Regions from separate parts of the Homo sapiens genome. Here all the other regions are linked to region 3. The links come from fine-mapping of genetic effects on gene expression. A gene starts in region 3. Each other region holds a variant in brackets. All regions are shown on one strand. Distances are from middle to middle.

Evidence for each region. PIP is the estimated chance that this variant, and not a neighbour inherited with it, causes the effect.
Region 1: its variant is fine-mapped to the expression of PKIA in tibial nerve (GTEx, PIP above 0.99).
Region 2: its variant is fine-mapped to the expression of PKIA in whole blood (INTERVAL, PIP 0.93).

The regions. Positions count from the first base shown.
Region 1 is chr8:78,555,291-78,558,058 of GRCh38, reverse strand. The region is part of intron 1 of PKIA (cAMP-dependent protein kinase inhibitor alpha); the gene reads right to left. PKIA-AS1 (PKIA antisense RNA 1) reads left to right here. Exons shown (of 3, transcript NR_125389.1): 2 at 1,460-1,560. The region is part of intron 2 of LOC105375911 (a long non-coding RNA gene); the gene reads left to right. Among named protein-coding and RNA genes, the nearest start is that of PKIA-AS1, 1.8 kb to the left of the region's middle. The variant C/G (reference allele first, on the strand shown) is at 1,504.
Region 2 is chr8:78,559,643-78,562,410 of GRCh38, reverse strand. All of the region lies in intron 1 of PKIA (cAMP-dependent protein kinase inhibitor alpha), which reads right to left. All of the region lies in intron 2 of LOC105375911 (a long non-coding RNA gene), which reads left to right. Among named protein-coding and RNA genes, the nearest start is that of PKIA-AS1, 2.5 kb to the right of the region's middle. The variant G/A (reference allele first, on the strand shown) is at 1,613.
Region 3 is chr8:78,514,749-78,517,499 of GRCh38, reverse strand. It overlaps PKIA (cAMP-dependent protein kinase inhibitor alpha), which reads right to left and starts at 1,160. Exons shown (of 4, transcript NM_006823.4): 1 at 1,032-1,160. All of the region lies in intron 2 of LOC105375911 (a long non-coding RNA gene), which reads left to right. RefSeq lists an enhancer at 486-595 and a silencer at 916-1,215.

The sequences.
Region 1 (2,768 bases), 41 kb before region 3:
CCCTTACTAAAACAACTGTAAACAGCATTTTGCATGTAATTTCAGATTTTTGCTACTACAAAACCAGTTAGTGGAAAAAAGACATCTTAGAGTCTAATTTACATTTATAATTAGCTTAAAACAAAGTGTCACATAAATTTACAAAACCAAATAGTTGGTACAAACAAATCAGACAAAATGTTACAGGGAAACACAGACTACCATCCCGGAGAAGGACAAGCAACATTGTACTACTGTCAAAATTTGGATCAAAACTATGTCTCTGCCAGGTTTCACTTTAACTGGAATTGAAGTTCCTGACATAGCTGTCCCCATCACAGGCATAAATACCCATCAAATAAACTGCAGTTGAACAGCCTCAGTCCCTTTTCTATAAAATGGGTATTTAATAATACCATTTTGACAAGAGCCTTATGAATATTAAGAGAACATAAATAAACTCCCCTAGCAGCTGACAGCCAAGTAATTAATCTTTCAGCCATTTCCTTTCTCTTTTTCCTTTTTTTCCCATGTTCTGAGTTCTTTTACACTTCATGTCCCACAATGCTGAAGTAATTGAAATGCTTTTACTCAGATAATCTCATACAACTTCTAGCATAATAAACAAGGAAAGTTTAATGCATTATTGTTTAAACAATGTCATTATTCTTTTTGGTAACCTGATTTTTCCAAATATGTAACTCTTTGATTCTCCTATAATATAGTATGTCTTATCCATGGGCACAAATTGAGTGTGTGTCAGAAATATTAAGTCCCTGGAAAACTACCAGTGGTGCCATTTTGGGTTCTATTTATATGTTAACAGCTTCCCTAAAACCAAGTTATTATCATTTCTACTCTTCTTCTGTTTTAATGCCCTCAAAATGTGGCTTCTAATTAGTAATTATATTAATTGGCGTCACATTCATTCTTGTTTGCTTTTTTCCTGATCATAACAAGAATTATCTGACTGTGAAGTTGGTGAGATGGGCTTTCTGATAAGGAAGGTTAGGAGGAAAAAAATGACAAGTAGGGTAACATATGCACATACAAAATTAGAGGAAGCTTCAGCAGTAACAAAATAGTGAGAGTCAATTAGTAGGAAGATTTTGTCATGTGTTGCCATTAATTGACCAACTAGAGTAATTAGACTCACAAATAACAGAAAGCAAAGAGTGGCAAATCTATCGTTCCTGCCAGCTTCTTCTGCTAGTCATCAGAACAATTATCTTCTAGTTTATGAAAGGATAAAGATGTAGTATTCAAATTTAAATGTTACCAATATAAGATATGGAGATATGTGAAACCTACTATAGTATCTTCATAAACATAGTTTTATAGCATCATAAATTTCACAGTAAAATTATCCATGAGAAATGTAAAACTCAAACAAAGTTCAGTAATATTTTAAATCTCAAAAATTAAAAAGAATTGCTGACTGTGTCTTGGCACACTTTTCTGTGTTTGTGAAATATGTTAGAGCCAGCCTGTTTTTGATGAAGAGCAACTGTACTGGAGAGAAAG[C/G]CTGTATTCATATTCATCGTCATCAGGCAAATCGAGGAGCTGACTTGCTTAGGATCAGTAAGTGCTTTTTTCCTCACTTCTTAACAAAGAACAGAACATTGTGTAAAAAAAAACAAAATCCCATTTTTGTTAAAAATAATAGTAAACAATGGAATGTTAGATAATTGATTTTTTTACTTCCCATATAAAATGATCAATAACTACTACTAAATACTAATTCGTAGTTGTATTAATTGGCATCACATTTATTCTTGCTTGCATTTTCCCTGATCGTAACAAGAATGATCTGACTGTAAAGTTAGTGAAACAAGATTACATGGGCAAGTAGATACTGACTCATGTAAATAACAGTGAGTCATGTTTGGCTGCCTGATTCTGTTAAAAGAAAAATGCATCCATATTCATTCAAAGCAAATGTTCTTTTGGTAACTGAATAAAAAGAATAGGTAGTAAGATCAATTTCTTTTAATTTACATAACTGCTAAACATAAAAGGAAAGGACAAAGGAAACAAACTGTGCTTTCTATCATATTTTATTTTTTTGCTCAACTACTGCCAACATTCTTAACTGATAGTATTACCTGTTTGTGTCCTTTCAGACCAAACCCCTTTACCCACCAGTGCCATAAAACAAAATCATAGTGTTGGGAGACATTTCAAGAAAGTCATTGCTATTGATTTGTCCCTCAAATATGACTTAATATAGCAATAGAATGATTTTGAAGTTAATAGTTTCTTTTCAGTGCATTAATAACTTTAGCAGTTTTAAATGTCTTTTTCTAGAGTGGTTTCTATACAAACACTCTCTCACACACACACATTGACACTCACTTTCCTTTTGTAATTATACACTCAATTCTTCTTGCATTCACCAACACCAAGGCTGCTTTATCCAACTCCTTCTCACTGTTGGCCAGTTTGAGATCAGAAAACAGGGATCAATTTTAATGTTCTCTTCAATAGACCTACATTGTATTTATGAACTAAGAAGTGATTTTTATTTTTGTTTTCCTATATTTTGAGCCTTTTGAATGACTACTTCTCTCCAACTATATGGCTTATAAGATGAGTCTTGTAACTGGGAGAAGCCAAAAAGTTCTGATGCCTAGCAGACTCTTGTCTCTTTGCCTGAGAACCTCAATCCTTTAGCCTTTCTTTTCTATTGAAATTCAAATATCTGTACTTTAAGATCTTAGTCATTTTTTTTTTACCTCAGTCTGAATGATCCAAAAGCAAGTTTTGATGATGTGGAGGAGGGAAGAGAA
Region 2 (2,768 bases), 45 kb before region 3:
AAATGTATCATATGCTTTGTGGTTTTAAAGAGATTACTTTGACTGTTGAGTCTCCTATAAAAATAAAATAGCTGTGACTCTATGAAGTGTGGGCTTAATGATAACAAATTTTTTAAGAGCCCAAGAAGCTAAAAAATGACTAGTTCACTGATGATTACCATTAGTCCCAACTAGACTATATTAATATAAGCTTGGTGACCCTGGGATCCTGAGACATATTTTGTTAGGAAAACTCAACTATTTTCAAACTAGCATGATTTCAACAATTGCTAATATTTTTTGGGGTTTCAGAACTATTATTTTATTAACTGGAGGCTCGATAAGAGGTTTTATGTAGAAAAAGGGTAGATAGTTGGCTTCTGTCTATTCTCCCTTTCAGTGGGAGAAGTGATGGTTAAGGGTGATTACTCTGCTGTTGGTGCATTGCCTAAGTTTTAGAACTAATTCAAGCCAGTAAATATTTGCTGAAGAACTATTATATGTTAGAAGGGAGCTGAGAATGGGGATACAAAGAGGATAATTAATAATAGAGCAGCTATTACTAACAAGAGGCAGGTACTGTGCAATGCTTAACGTGCATTATCCCATGTTACATGAATTTACACATTAACCCTGTGAGGTAGGTGTATTTATTATCCTCTTTTCCTGAGAAAACAGATGCTTTTCAAAACATTAAGTGATTTATCTAAGGTTACATAGCTAGTCAGAGATGGAAGCAGTATTTGGACTCAGAAAGTTTGACATCAGTACCAACCACTGTGCTCTACTGACTACAATGGCCCTACTTGAGAAGTTCAAAATCATACATACGTGGGTACAACTGACCCTAAGACTGCCTGGCACAAACTTTGTGGGACAGGCTAGATTTATGTGAGATGTACTTGAAGTGGAGAAGATTGTGACAGAGAGTCACTAAAATATGCTTCCTGTACTAGGAGAAAAAAAAAAACAAAAAAACTTGGCCTAGCCTAGAGCAGTGGGGTAGGCTAATTACATGATGTTGAGGAGGAAGAAGGAGCATTTCTGTCTTTTTTCTTGTCTTATAATTGATTAAATTATATCTGTGTCACGATATCAGAAACAAATTACAGTATAATGGACAGTTTTTGAACCCATCTTAGCTTGTATCCTGGTATATGTAGAGTGTTAGACCAACAGTGGCACCTATATGTAGTTAAATACATTTTAATTTATCTTTAGCCTGAAAGGAAAATAGTTTCTTATATGTATAATTTGGGAGTGTCTTCAGAAAAAATACTTAAAGCCCCCTATCTCAGAGGAAGGCAAATTCGCAAAAGATCTACCAGCAGATGCAAGTCCAAACACACTAATCATTTAGTGAGATTTGTACTGATATACCACGTCTCATGTTGTTTATTTATGGATTTTTCTGGAAGAAGGCTCATAGAGCTCATATATTCTCAAAGAGGTAAAGACCCATGCTGATAAGGTAGAAAGATCTTTGCTCTGGAATTAAATCAGTTTAGGTTTTGCAGCTTACTAGAATTAGGTAACATTCTTAATCTTCCTGAGCCTGGTTTCTATCTACCAATAGAGATAACACTAACACAGAGGGATGTGGTTAAATTAAATGACTCAGATAAAATGTTAT[G/A]TATCTTTTCAGGCTATCCTGTTAGGACATGCCCAGTAAATGTTAAGCCATCAGCAAATACTCTGCTTCCTTGACATGAATGAAGCCCATTCTCATGTTCTTCATGGTTTTCCTCGGCCATTGGTCTAAATATCAAGGCCATAGTTAAAAATTATCCCTGTCCCTTCACAGTCCATCTGCTTCCCCAAAGTATTCTCCTTGATGAATTGAGTCCCAATATTAGTAATATTCATCACTTTAGTTATTAATGTTCATATGTTTAAGATATTTTAATGTAAGGTAAATCATTACTCAAGAGAATAGCTAAGCTGGCTTTGTCAAAGATTTCAATGAGCTACCAGTACATCTTAATCAGAATTAACTTTCAAAGACAGGGAGAGCAATGATTCAAGGTGTGAATAGAAAAACGTTTTCTTTTTGTACAAAATGTTACTGTCATTTGTTCTGGTGGGGAAAAAGCTTAGAGTTAACCTAATTTACATTTTATGATTAGTTTAAAGAAAGTGTTATATAAATTTAGAATGAAAATAAATCAGTTTTCTTTAAACAGAAATGCAGATTTAAAAATGTCTTTTTATGCAACTGCCAGAAGGAAGCACTGTTTTGTCTGCAAATTCCCAGATTCTGCTCTAGTTTTAAAGGCTAACGACTGTGAAATGCAAATATAATCAGGGTTCCAGATGTGGCAATCAGGAAATGATTTGTGTACCAGCTATTTTTAACAAAAGGCTTGCAAACATGATAAATGAATAGTGAAAGTCAAAATGATATCAAATATGCATGAAAGTAGCATATATATAATTATAAATTACCTTTAGGAATTAATTATAACATTACTTCAGAGAGATTCGTATGATTTATTCCTATGGAGAATGTAGAGTCAGATGATCTAGGTTATCACTTTGGGACTAGGATATCACCAAAAATCTTTATGTTACAACATATGTGATAGAAATGAACACAATTTTACAGGAAGAACTAATCAGATGAATTCAGATTTCATTTGTACTTTGGTATAAATAGATCAAACTGGGTTTTCTCAACTAGATGTATAATAACTACAGATAAAAAGAACTATGCTGGTTTGCCAGAATGTAAAACACTGGCGAAAGTGAGGGGGCTGTATCAATGAGCTCGGGAAAGCAGCTCCATAGCC
Region 3 (2,751 bases):
GTCCCAAATCTTAACAGCTAGCTGTCTCAAAATCCAACTGGACTAAAATTGCTTCAAGAAAAACTGGATGGACTGGCATTCACATTTTTACTTCTACCTATGCCTATGCATAGGGAACATCCCTCACACTCCAGTAGATTCTATCTGTCCTCTCTAGCTTTCAAGTAGCCACAGTGACTACAGCGAAGGGAGTTAATGGGATAACATGTTGGTACAGGGCCACAAGCAGGATATTTCATTCCATGCATTTGGGGGAAGGACACAGGTAACAGTATACAGGGAGAATACCGAATAAGAAATCTGTGTGAGGCAATGCCCTTTTTGGGACCTTGACAAAATCAGTCATGGAACCCAGGTGGTGGATAAGAGCTGACGAGAGTTGGTCTGTGAATGGGCACAGCATCTCCGAAAAAGATCAATGAAATGATTGACAGAGAAAATGGCAATTGAAGGAAGAAGCGATGTCAAGTGCTGCTCAACCCAAGCTGAACTCCAGGAGATAAGAGAAGTTTCCCCTCCAGATAGAGGCTCTTTCTAAAGGTTCAGTCTTGAAGCAGGTGTTTTGCCATTGAGAGGGGCACAGACCCATTCTGATAACTGGAAAGGGAGAGGACCAAGGACTACAGGAAGAGGGACGATTTCTGATTACCTCAGGCTGCTGCCAGGGACCTACTGCTCCAAATCCTCAAAATACTCAAGCGAAGGTAAAAGGCACAGAAAGCAAAAGAGTAACTCAAATTATTTTAAATTTTGAGTCCTCTTCACTGTCTACGCGAATCTGGCACTGAAATGGTAGATCACGTTCAAAAGAGTATAGAGGCAAGAACGCCTTCTTTGTTTGCCCAGTAACACTGCTCCTCCAACCTCTGCACTTGGCCGCCCAACATTTCCATCCTAGTTGTTGCTCCTTTTCTCATTGCAGAATGCAGCGGGGTTCTCCCCTTCTTCCCTCCGTGCTGCAAACCCCATTATTAACCAAGCGGAAAGCTCCACGCAGTGCGGCCAGGGCGCACCGGTGCCGGGCTGCTTACCTTCCCCGGACCTAGTCAGCGCAGGTCCCCGCGCACGCCGCCACGGGCCGCAGTCCCGCCGCGCCCGCCGAGTGCTCGGTCAGCTCGCGCCGGCCCGCGCCCCACCTGCCAGCAGCAGCCTCCGCTCCCGCCGCGGAGCTCCGGCTGCATGAAGTCATCCCCGCCCCGGGACGGATCACCACATTCCGCGCCAGCCACGGGGGGAGCGGGGCCGCTCCCGACCCCAGGGAAGGCAGCCTGGAAACGGCGCTCGACGATCGCTGCCCCGCGAGGTTGTGGATTGATTTTCTATTAATGCTTTTACAGCTGCAGCATCGCTGGATTATGGATTGAGAGAGAAGAGCCAGGGGGGCTTTCTCTGCATAGCGTCCTTCCTCCGAGCGCTCCCCCGTCACCCCGGCTGCATGGACTGTTCCATTTGCCCCTGTGGGTTTCCCACCCTCTTCATCTTCCTTATCAGCATTGTTCATTTGGCTGAATTTGAGAGCAGGAATTGTCTTTTAAGATAAACATTCAAGCACTACAAAAACATTTTAAATTGGTAATGAAGCTTTCTAAGCCCTTCATAGCTCTCTCCATCACCCCCGCCCCCGCCAACAGACACACACGCAAACACACACACACACGCACACACGCGCGCACACACACGTATGCACACAGCCAAACCACTCACAATTTTGAAAGCTAGAACCTTTCGCCCTCTCACCTACGTAATAGAACGGGAATCTCCTAAAAGACTGGAGAAGTGGGGCCAACCAGAGAAAGCGCTCAAAGAAACAGTGGGGTGGCCCCATGATTTTGTTGTGTTTATGGTGCACTTGTGCACAGATGTTCCCTCTAACATCTCTTCCTCCTACTTCCTTTGCTCTGGACCCCCTCCCCTCCCTGCCACATAATTGGGCAAACTGTTGTGGTGACAGCTGTAACATTTGGGAATCAAAAAGCAGAGTCTACATTAGCAAATGACTATCTCTCTTTCCCTAAGGATTTATGAAAATTTGCTTTGGGAATGAAATAAGCATGTATTCATATAAGCCCTTTCCTTCTCTTTTTAAATTAACACTAGCTGTTAACAAGACTGTTCTCTCTCCCCCACCCTCCCGTTTTGCTTCTTTCCCAAATCTCTTCAGGTTTGAGGGTTGAATGTTTAAGGAAAAATGGGACTAAATTTGCTCTCTTTGTAGCTGAGCCAGGGTTTCCGCCTAGCTGTTGAGTCATTTTCCAGTCGGGAGGTTCCTTGACACTAGGGTTCTGTGGAATGGAGTTCCCTCTTTTAACTTGCCTTGCTGTTTGAATTGACCGTCACTTGATACAGGCCAGCTTTACACTATGGATTTGTCCAGCAACCTAAACAGTGCAATTGCACAAGGCCAGGGAAGCACCTTTGCTAAATGAGATGTTTCCATCCATCTATCAGTCCCAAAGTTAGGTGATAATGTAGCCAACAGCTTTCCAACAAAACTTAGTTAGAATTCTTGGTCATAGAATATATGCTCTTTGAAAGCTAGAACAGCTTAATTCATCGCTCTGAGACTCACTTTCATAACATTAGCCCGTTAATATTACCATAGAGCAGGAGATTCTTAATCTGTATAAATGGAATTCTATTCATATACTCCTTTTATACAGATTAAGTATAATGGGAAAAATCTCATTTTTAGTTTCACTAACTTCTAACTGAAATTTAGCATTTAGCATGTCCTTTAAACATAATGTAGGC